2 separate regions of the Homo sapiens genome follow, and region 1 is linked to region 2. Evidence: fine-mapped expression QTL. A gene starts in region 2. The other region holds a variant in brackets. All regions are shown on one strand. Distances are from middle to middle.

Evidence for each region. PIP is the estimated chance that this variant, and not a neighbour inherited with it, causes the effect.
Region 1: its variant is the best candidate, but not a certain one, in a credible set for the expression of ADGRB3 in spleen (GTEx, PIP 0.74).

What each region holds. Positions count from the first base shown.
Region 1 is chr6:68,758,556-68,763,555 of GRCh38, reverse strand. The region is part of intron 3 of ADGRB3 (adhesion G protein-coupled receptor B3); the gene reads right to left. Among named protein-coding and RNA genes, the nearest start is that of ADGRB3, 130 kb to the right of the region's middle. The variant A/G (reference allele first, on the strand shown) is at 2,504.
Region 2 is chr6:68,632,043-68,637,582 of GRCh38, reverse strand. It overlaps ADGRB3 (adhesion G protein-coupled receptor B3), which reads right to left and starts at 2,301. Exons shown (of 32, transcript NM_001704.3): 1 at 1,583-2,301; 2 at 21-192. It overlaps LOC127898563, which reads right to left and starts at 1,693. Exons shown (of 1, transcript NM_001414704.1): 1 at 1,616-1,693. The coding sequence starts at 1,693. The coding sequence ends at 1,616. It overlaps ADGRB3-DT (ADGRB3 divergent transcript), which reads left to right and starts at 3,259. Exons shown (of 2, transcript NR_125872.1): 1 at 3,259-3,398; 2 at 4,527-4,920. RefSeq lists a silencer at 2,353-2,562.

The DNA of each region.
Region 1 (5,000 bases), 130 kb before region 2:
CCTTTAATATGAGCAAAACATAGGTATATTAAAATTTCATGTTAACTTATTTGTAATAGGGGAAAAATCAATAAGCAATATGAATGCCTACCAAGGTGACATTAAATGAATAAAATAGGAGTAGCATGTCTTTTTCAATGATTAAAGTATAACAGTTAAAAGAAGTGGCCAGGCACAGTGGCTGATGCCTGTAACCCCAGCACTTTGGGAGGCCAAGGCGGGCGGATCACCTGAGGTCAGGAGTTCAAGACCAGCTTGGCCAACATGGTGAAACCTCATCTCTACAAAAATATAAAAATTAGCTAGGCATTATGGTGGGCGCCTGTAATCCCATGTACTCGAGAAGCTGAGGCAGGAGAATCGCTTGACCCTGTGAGGCAGAGGTTGCAATGAGCCAAGATCGTGCCATTGCACTCCAGCCTGGGTGACAGAGCCAGACTCCATCTCAAAAAAGAAAAATTTATCTCCTAAATGAACACATGTATGTGTATGTTTGTGAGTATCAGAAATATCAACTAGTTGTTATAGTATTAATTAATTAAAACAACCTAAATGACCACAAACAAGGAATGTTTTAAATGAATGTATGGAGTCAGGCTAAGTTTTAAATTCTGACTCTGAGTTTAATAAATTACTTTAAATCTTTAAACCCTATGTCCCTCCCTTGAAGTTTACAGAGTAATGTGATTAATAGATGGTTACGTGTGCTATTATAAATAATTCACTTAGCAGGTTTTTTGAGAGAATGTAGAATTTCAGCAAATGATAGGTGCTATTGTTATTACTATAATTCTTATTTTACTTTTTATGATTATGAGTCTAATTTTTTGACAATTTTATTTAGGTTCCACTTATCAGTTATTTTTATGAGGACCTTGCTACTTGACCTTAAGTATCGTATGACATTTATAATTTAAGCAAATATGTTTATGACTTATTTTATTGTTTTAATTTACTTTCTTTTACCTTTTCAAATAATTAATTTACTAGTCCTATTTATTCAACAATTCTTTGTTTCACTAATTTATTTGGTCACCTCTATCACTCTCTCTCTCTCTATATATATATATTCATGGTTGGACTTATGTCTATTTTGTCTTATTTTGATGCTTTATCTGTAAATTGCTAATTTAATTACTGTGAGTTCACAGTAAGATTTAGCTCTTAGTCAATCAAATTGCTCATCGTTACTCACTTATTTTAACAAAATATATAAGTTATTTTCACCTGTTAACATTTTCATTTAACTCCAGATTACAAAGCTCTTAAAAAGGGGATCAGAAAACTGAGAGAGAGAATGAGGAGAAAAGAAGAGAAAGTTAGGGAGAAAAAGAAGGGGGAAAAGAGAAGGGATTGAACAAGACAGAAGATGAGATGGTGGAGAAAAGAGTGGAAAAAGATGACCTTTAAAATACTGCATTAAAACTATAAAATACCTTGGAAAGAAACAATATTTGTACAATTATTCAGTTTTACCATTCAGGGACATTGTAAATCTCTTTGATATCTGAATATTTGTATATATTCACTACACGAAACTTTCATTTTACCTTAAGGTAGATTTTAAATGTAATAATATGGTTTAAATCATTATATGATTGATATGAATAAAAATCTGCCATTCTTATAGAAAATACTAGACAATATAATGGTCACATACAACACTTCTCAGTTAAACTTGAACTTGACATGCACATTATCTAATTGGTCTCATAACAATTTTCCATTTTCCATTTTCAATTACCATTTTTGAACACAGTGTAATGATGAGTAGAAAACCTAATAGTAAAACATATTTGCATTGTCCTGTTTAAAAACCTTAGACTTGATCAGAGGACAAACAAGTTTGAAACAACAACAACAAAAAAGCAGAATCTAAAGAAACGGGGCATGAGAAAACAGGTTTATGTAACATCACCTACAGCCTATATAATAAAAGAGAAAATACATGTCTGGCGCCTGCATATTTTGGAACGTAGCAGCATAATACTCTGTGCACTCACTGAAGTCAACCAAGCAAGCACCACATCGACACTGAACAAGCCTGCAGAGGACACCAAAGCACAACCTGTGCTACACTGACACATACAAAGAAATATGTAGTAACTGTAGAAGCCTAATTTAGGTTCAAAGTAGCACCATGGAATTAACTAGTCACGCCTGAGACTGCCTGCAAGGAGTTACCAACTGAAAACCTAGGTGAGTCAAAAGAAAGGGACAAATAAAGAAGTTTAGGTCATTTATATAAATATGTAAATCCAAGTGTGCTTGTTTGAAAATATTTAGGGCACTGTCTACATACTATCTATTATTTCTCCCTCTCTCCTTGTTGCCTTTCACCTGGAGACTTGGAGGTGGGGAGTTCCTGCCTTAACAGGGTATGTGATCCGAATTGGGACTGCAGGAATTGTACTGCTGTTTACTACCGTCAGCAGCTGTCCTGTTTCTTAGGATCACCAGGGAGGAGTGAGAACATCCGCTGGAGGAGGCAGCAGGAAAGGAT[A/G]TCAACAGAATCAACTTAATTTTTCCAGCATGGAAATAACCCAAGCCATTTAACTGGAAGACAACATTAAAAATGATACCAATGTATTTTAGAAATTATAAGTTTAGCAAAAGGAAAAATTATAGTATTTGAATATTTCCTTTTGGTTTCCACTATATGCCACATATCTAAATTGCATGTTGAATGCAGCTGACAAATTTATTCAGAGAACTGGACATGCTGCTATTATAGTGTCCTGTGGTGGGCTCAGTAATTGGACATTGAATCTAGCTAGAATTCATACCCAGTGACGTTTTGCTGAGGGTAAATGTATTCTGGCAAATGGCATGATTTTCTCTAGCTAGAATACTAAAATGGAGGCAGTCCACCTGTGTGGACAGCTGCTACTTCACAGATTCTTTGCCAGGAACCACCATTTAATAGAATTGTGTAGACATTACGTTTGTTGTTTTCCTCTGACAAAAAGCAAGATGAGTTGAACCTGAGTTTTTGCCTTGTCTTGTTTTCATAGCTTCTGTGATTTATCAGGAAACAATACTTGGTAATGTCATTTTCTTTGGTTCTGGTCAGAGCAATCCTTTGATACTTTATGAATTACTTATCTCACTTTCATAAGGCTTAACGTGGAAAATTAACCTCCCATACATTTCTAATTAGTTTTTAATGAATTTTAGCTTCCCTGATAGGAAAAGCTCTATCCAACTAGCTACTAGAAATTTAATCTGCATTACTGAAGTATATGACAACCACCCCTAGGGGAGAAATGTCCTTGAGTTGTGTGTATGTGTGTATGTGTATGTGTTTGTCATTTTCAGAAATAATTCACATTCTAAATGTTTACCTCCATCTTTGATTGCATAAGGAACTACCATCATTTGCAACGAATAAGTGATTTTCATTATGCAATGCTGACCATAATGTAAATTATACAATGATCAGAAGTACTGAATTGCTTGTATCTGCTTATGCTTTTAAGATATAAAAGAAATAGGTCAAACTAGCAAATTATGTAATTAAATGTAATTTTCCAAGTTAAGGGTACATTGGCCAGAATAAAACCAAAAATATAGTATCATACCCAAACTGAACTAAAATAACTTCAAACAATTAAGATATTATTTTATTTAATGAATAAAAATCTATGAGATTTTGTTAGGTCAAATTTTACAATATATGGTAATGCCAATGAAATAATTTATGCTATTAACATCCATTTTCTTCATCTATAGTTTTCATTTTTTTACCTCTCAATTGGCTTAGTTTCTTTCTTGTTTTTGAAAGAAATTTCATTTTTACATATTGGAAAGATTTTCATTAACACAAGAAATATTCTATATTTAAGTTTTATTTGAGTTTAAGAAACATTCACATTAAGGAAACTTTTATTTGAAATATCTTGCATTAAAAAAGAACCAATTTGATATGAAGAATACATGACCTCAATTTTATATAAAATCAGGCCATGTGAGAATGTAAGGGCAATTTCTAGAATAAGGAATGCAATGGCTTAAAGTTACACACATAGCATCTGTATTAAAAATAAAGAGACCAAGATAGGAATTAATAGTGAACTAAAACAAAAGAATTAACAGATATAATTAGTGAGAAGCACATATTTTGTTAGGCAATATATGTAAAATAATCTTTCAAGAACTGAATAAAATATTTAAAAGAAAAAAGTTCTCAAAACTATGTAAATGCTTTTGAACTGATAAATGAATAGCAAATTAGTTTAAATAATTTGGAATATGTTGATTATATTTTCTTTTCATTTGCCTCAAATATATGGAAAAATAAATGCTTTTTATTGGTAGTGAATGGCTATGTATACACTCTATATAATAATAAATAGGCCACAAACCATTAAAGCATATTTAAATATCCCATGTCTTCTATAATTTAATATCTACTATTTTCTCATAAGCAATGAGATTATCAAGGGAGGTTGCTTGCTTTAAAATACTTTATCATGGGTAGCCTCTTCCGATGAGGTGATCTTTGAAGGCTTTTCAAGCCCTCTAGAGTTCATGGCCTACCATTTCGTATTCTGGACACCTGCTAAATGTAAGTGCTCTTGAAATTGTGTGTGTTTGTATGCATGGATGTATAAAACTGCCAATCTCAGGAATCACCCTTTTGAGGAACAAAGCTGGTTGTAATTCAAAAAGGAATGAAACAATGTAGTTATCCTAAAGCAGTTTTTAGGATTGGGAGAAGGGTGGTCAGACAGACATAGAAGCAATTTGTTATACTACAAAGCTGAACAACATAAATGCCATATGCTATAAAAAGTGCTTAATGGGCACTATGGGAGGAATATTTAATCATTCATTTCAACTAGGGGCTATAAAAATGACTTCAAGAAGGAGATAATAATTCAGCTGGACTGCATGTGTATAGAACATTTTTCTGCACTGGCAAATAACTGTGATCAAGAAATGTGAATGTATGTGATATCCTGGGACTTAACCATAGGACACATGGGGGAATACACTAG
Region 2 (5,540 bases):
TAGTCCTTGGTTATATTTACCTCTGTAAGTTGTTATCCAAAAATAACTTGAATATTTTTCAGCTTTAACCTTTAAGAAGTTATTTCTTAGAATAAATGACACTGCTTTTGTTTGTTTGTTTAGCCTTTGAGCTGATAAAAGTGATGCCAAGTTAATTTTAAAAGTCTTTAGGCTGCAGTCTCTTCCACTGTTCTGTAAACAGAGACAGACATACAGACATATAGATAGTTAAGAGTTTTCATGCCTTTGCCTGGGTCTTCTCTGAATCAAAGGATAAAACCCTCTTCCTTCCCATTGCATAACACACACCAACGCATGCACACCAAATCCAGTGACCGAAGTCCCTGAAGATAGATCTGCATTTTCCAGATTATAATTCAAATTCTATGTCTTGATATAGGCAAACACAGCCCCAACTCTAAATCTCTATATAGCAGCAGTTTAAAATAACATCAGAACTGCTGGGACCATCAAAACAGTGTTCTCTGTTTCAAGCAAATAGCTCAATGAATAATGCATTTTCTTCATGAGAAAATAAAGCCAATGAGCATTTAAAGGTTAAAAAAAAACAGAGAAAGTTGTAAGAAATTCTGGAAATAATTTCCTTTTTTTTTTTTTTTTTTTGGTGTTGCACTTTGCAGGCAATGCAGGTCTGCGCAGTGTTCTTCAGGATAGAGTGTAGGCGTTGAGAGCCAATGTGACAATAAGTGTCTAAATTAGGAATTCCATCCATGAAAGGGGACTTCATTTTATAATCAGGAACTCAAAAAGAGGTCGTATGTCTTTTCCTAATGAAATTGGTACTTTTGCTTTCATTTATTTGACAGTGCATGTCTGCAATGCCGTGCTCATCAATGATCAGAGAGTGAGGAAATAGCTCTGAATTCACTTTAATGCCTGCTCAAGAGAGCGCACTCAATATAATGCTCTTTATTTTTAATCAGTCTGGAGTACACAGTCTTATTTTGTTCTAAATAATAAAAAATAAATCATTACCCTCACCCCCCTTTGGACTGCAGGGCCCGTTCAAAAAGCCGTGTTTCCCTCTTAAAGAAGGGGTGGGGGCGGGGGCAAAGGCTGGCCACGGAGGTGTCAAGGATGTTTTATTTATTTATTTATTTATTTATTTATTTATTTATCTCTTGCTGAGAAGCAAACCAGCATTGAGTTTAGCTATTCTCAAAACTGATTTTCTGGGTGACACTTTAGTTTAGTCGAACATAGACGGCGCCATCACTCCACAGATTTTTCCCCCCAATAGAAGACCCACTGCCTTCTCTTAACTTCCTTTTAACCTAAAATTTTCCCCTCATAAAATTACCCCAATCACACAAAACTGCCAGATTTTCTAGGTCTCTCCGCTTATTCCTTCTGACCCAGCACATCTCTTGAAAACCAGACTTCTCTAACTTTTCAACTGCGGCGTTTAAGTAAATGCAGACAGTCGGATCTGCTCACAGCCTCCCCATCCGCCAGCAACAGCCTTTCCTTTCATTTTCCTCCCTTCTCAAACATTAAGCCCAAAGCTCCACGGTGGCGACCCCCGGCAGAGAAAAGGTGACCCCTGGACCCCCTTCCTTACCTTCCACTCCGAAAGCTCAGGGAGGCTCTTGCTCTAAGACACCAGCACAGGCACGCGTCCCAGCAACAGTGACGGAGAGACTCCCCTTCGGTCCCAATCACCGTTGCCCATTTTCCCCGGCTCAGCTTCCAAAATCAGGATTTATTTTTAAAAATGCATACATACGAAAAGCAAAAGGTGGGGGGTGGGAACCAAAGGGGGGTCGATGAGAGAGAGGAAAAAAAAGCCAGCAGGAGCCCAGAACCTTGCGCCGTATCCAACTGAATCCAACCTCCAAACCGAGGGGGGCTAAAGGGAGGGAGAAGCCCCCCCAAGGGAGACTCTAAGGAACCCCCCAAAATGTAAGTGGCTTAATAGCAAAGATTTGTTTCATAAAAGCTACCCCCAACAAACCAAGAAGCAAAGAAAGCGCTGAGACGAGAAGTGACCGGCGGCGGCGGCGGCTGCTATGGCAGATTTGTTGGGGCGGTGGGTTTATTACAGGAGTATTCGTGGTCGGATCGGAAGGCTCAAGCTTATGCTTTTTCCTCTTTCCGCTTTCCTCCCTCCTCCTCCTCCCCCCTGCAGGTACTGATGGACGGACGGCGACTAAGGAGAGCGGGGAAAAAAATCCTTGGCTGGTGATGTCGGAAAGCTGTTTGAATGCCCAGCGAGGAGGGAGGCGCGAGAGGGAGCGAGATAGTAAAGCTCTGTCTCGGGTGTGCGCGCCGGCGCGCAGTGCTCGCTCTCCCTTGGGCGCGCGCGCGGGGGGTGCGCGTGTCCCGGGAGCGCGTCCGCGCGGCGGCCTCCCGCGTGCTCGTGTGCGCGCGCGTCCCGGGTGCCGCGCGCCCTTCTTATGCACAGCTGCGGTGCGCCCCGCCGCCCGCCAGAGGCTCGGCTCGCGCGGCGCGGCCGCTGCGACTTCCTGGAGTTCTGCCTGCCGGGGGCGCGGGCGGGTGTGTGAGAGAGAAGGCGAAGGGAGCCGCGGGGTGGGAGAGGAGGGAGTCCCGGCGGGAGGGCGGGGGAGAGGCTGGCGGGAGGGGGGCTCCACGGAGCTCCAGCCAGGGCCGCGGTTCGCCTGCACGTCACGGCTACTCAAACCCAAGCACGTCCCGAAAGCGGTATTTTCTGCGTCTGGGAGGTTTTTGCATCCTCAGTTCCCACCGCTGGGGCTGGCGGCGACCAACTGTAAGAGAAACTCACTGGGAGGCGAGGCAGGGGGGTGCGGAGGATGGGAAGGCGACTCTGAAGGGTGGGAAGTGAATGCTGGACTTGATCGTCTTTCTCTTTCTTTCAGCGCAGACCTGTCGCAGCCAGAGAGCTGTCATTTCAGTACCGGGATTCAGAATTGATCCAGTCCGCAGCGGAGGGGGCACATCCCAGCTACCGAGCTGCTGAGTGTCTCTGGCTGGAACAATAGTATTTTTTTCTCTGCGAGGCTGCAATTAACATCTTATTTGTTCTGGCTCCATACAGGCTTTGTCAGGATCGCGGTGCGGCGACCGACGTTGGGCTCTTGCATTGCTTTGTGCTTGGCAATGGAATCATGGTTTCGGGGTCTAAACTTTTGTTTCGTTTTGTAGTCTTAATGTATCTGATTCTTTTTCAAGTTTCCCTAGTAACAGGTTTGGGGACGGGGTGGGAAGAAGCGAGAAAAGGGGTGAAGAGAAAAAACCAGATTATATAGAAAGGAAAAAGGGAAAAGGGATGTTTCCCCACCTTTTAATCTAACTATCTATCTGTCTGTCTATCTATCATCATAGATAGTCATTTTGCCTCCTGGACAGTTGGCTGACGAAGTGTCTGATAAACCAGCTTCAGATACATGCTACAAAAGGTCATTCGCCTCCTGATTATGTTTCTACTTGTAAACGCAGTTGGTGGTTTGCAAAACAAGTGCTAAAATAGTGCAGTGATGTGGTGGGAGGAAACCATAATGGGTAATTCATATAAAGTGCTGGAATCTTCGTAAGGGTGAGTTTCTCGAGCGGCAGGTGAAGTTGAATAAAGCAATTTTCCATCATTTGTTCCCCTCACTCTTGCATTTTTTTCCTCCGCTTGTTTCTCTCCCCTGGGGCGATTATGGATAGCCAAGAACACCATTTTAAAAGAGATTGATAGTGAAAACAGGAAGTTTATGGTCTGTTATCCACTGGAGTTGTTTGAAATATTAAAATTGGTCCTTTACTTCTTAATGCATATTAATAGAGTGACCCTCTTCAAGGCTTTCCCGTCTTAAACGAATGCCTGGGATAAACACTGTAAGGGGAAACAGTTAATAATTCCCCAGCAGGCTTTAACTATTTTCCCAGTAACAAATCACCGGCAAGAGAGCAGCCTGGGTGGCATTTTGGTTTTGTGTCATTTTGGTTCTTTACAATATTTTTTATTCATTTAAGGAAATGTTAAAAGGAAATAATTAGGGTTTATGTCCAGAACAAATTTTGAAACACCGTTTAAGCAACACATTTTCTTTTAAAAACAAAGAACATTGAGCAACACAAAGGAGAAAAACATTTTATTTATTTCAACTTCCCTAGAGATCGTAATTATGATTTTCGCAAGGCAATTTGGTCAGTTCTGTTACTTTATCCAGAGGAAAAAAAAGCATGACAGATGTGGAATAAAAACGGAGGAAAAAATGCTTTGGATGGTTTATACATAAAAAGGAAAGAATGTAATGTGAGGTTCAGTTATACCTCTATTTTGCATCTAGTGATTTCTCATATTATCTTGTAACACTGATTTTGATGTTTCTTAGAAATTCTTAAAGTCATGACACAGTGGCATAAGAATAACAGCTGAAAGGGACAATTTAAAAGCCTAAATCCTAAATGGAAAGGTTCACTTACTCCCAGGATCATTTATATTCAAGTAGAAGTCAGGGCAGGGTCAGAAAAGAAAGCCACCCTTAATAAAGCGCTTCACCCTTCACATTGTTTCTCATAACCTTCATAAATTGCAGGCTACTGAGCTGGCCTGATGATGATCCTTCTGAGATATATTTATAGCAGATGATTTGTGGATGATAACTACGCCAAGCAAGACACTGTCTCCAGTAACCCCAGGCTCGTCTGACTTCCTCAGGGGATTATAATAAAGAATCACAAAAAGAACCCTATATGGACAGTCTGGTCTCTGGACACTAACAACAGCACAATCCAAAGGCAAAGAAAGGAGGAACCACCTTGTTTCATGTCTGCAAGCTGCTCCATATGAAAGCATTGCTGACATGTTGACCCAACAGCAAAAAGAGAGCAGCAGTTTACACACCCTCAGCTCTCTGTCCTTTCCTTTCTATTGATGTTGGTCCACTTTTATGACTGAATACATATTAAAATCACCATTTCAAATTATAATTATCTGCTTTCATTGGTCTCTTTCACAAGTCTATGTCTATATTTATGTTTACATATATAAACACATATACACATATTTTATACATACATATGTATATGTATGCACGCATTATTTGTAAGTACACATACACGTGTGTGTATATATATGTATATGATATGTATATGTGTATTTCAGTTGATACACATATATTTGCTTGGGAAGTTTCACTACATTGCTTTGTATTTCTCTTTTATAAGGTAATGCATTTAATTCCAAAACTACCACATTAATTGTATAAATTGATTATTACATAAGTTTCCTTGATGATTTACAGAAGAACTATTGAGAGGTCAGTGTTAGCACATCAAAATATAGTCTGGTATGGCATTTTAAATTGACCCAGGTATCTAATATTAAAGCCTTTCAAATTTATCTCTCCTGCTATTATTTTATTAAGATTACTTTGGAATGATGAGGTTATAAGTGTGATTTATTTCTGTTTCATCTTTTTGTCTGTATGTGCTAAGTTTAGTCCCTCCACTTTGAGAATAACCCTATAATCCAGGATCATTGCTTAAAATTCAGTATCATTTGCAGAATTCTCATACTCAAATAAGAATGTTTCTAGAATATGTTTACT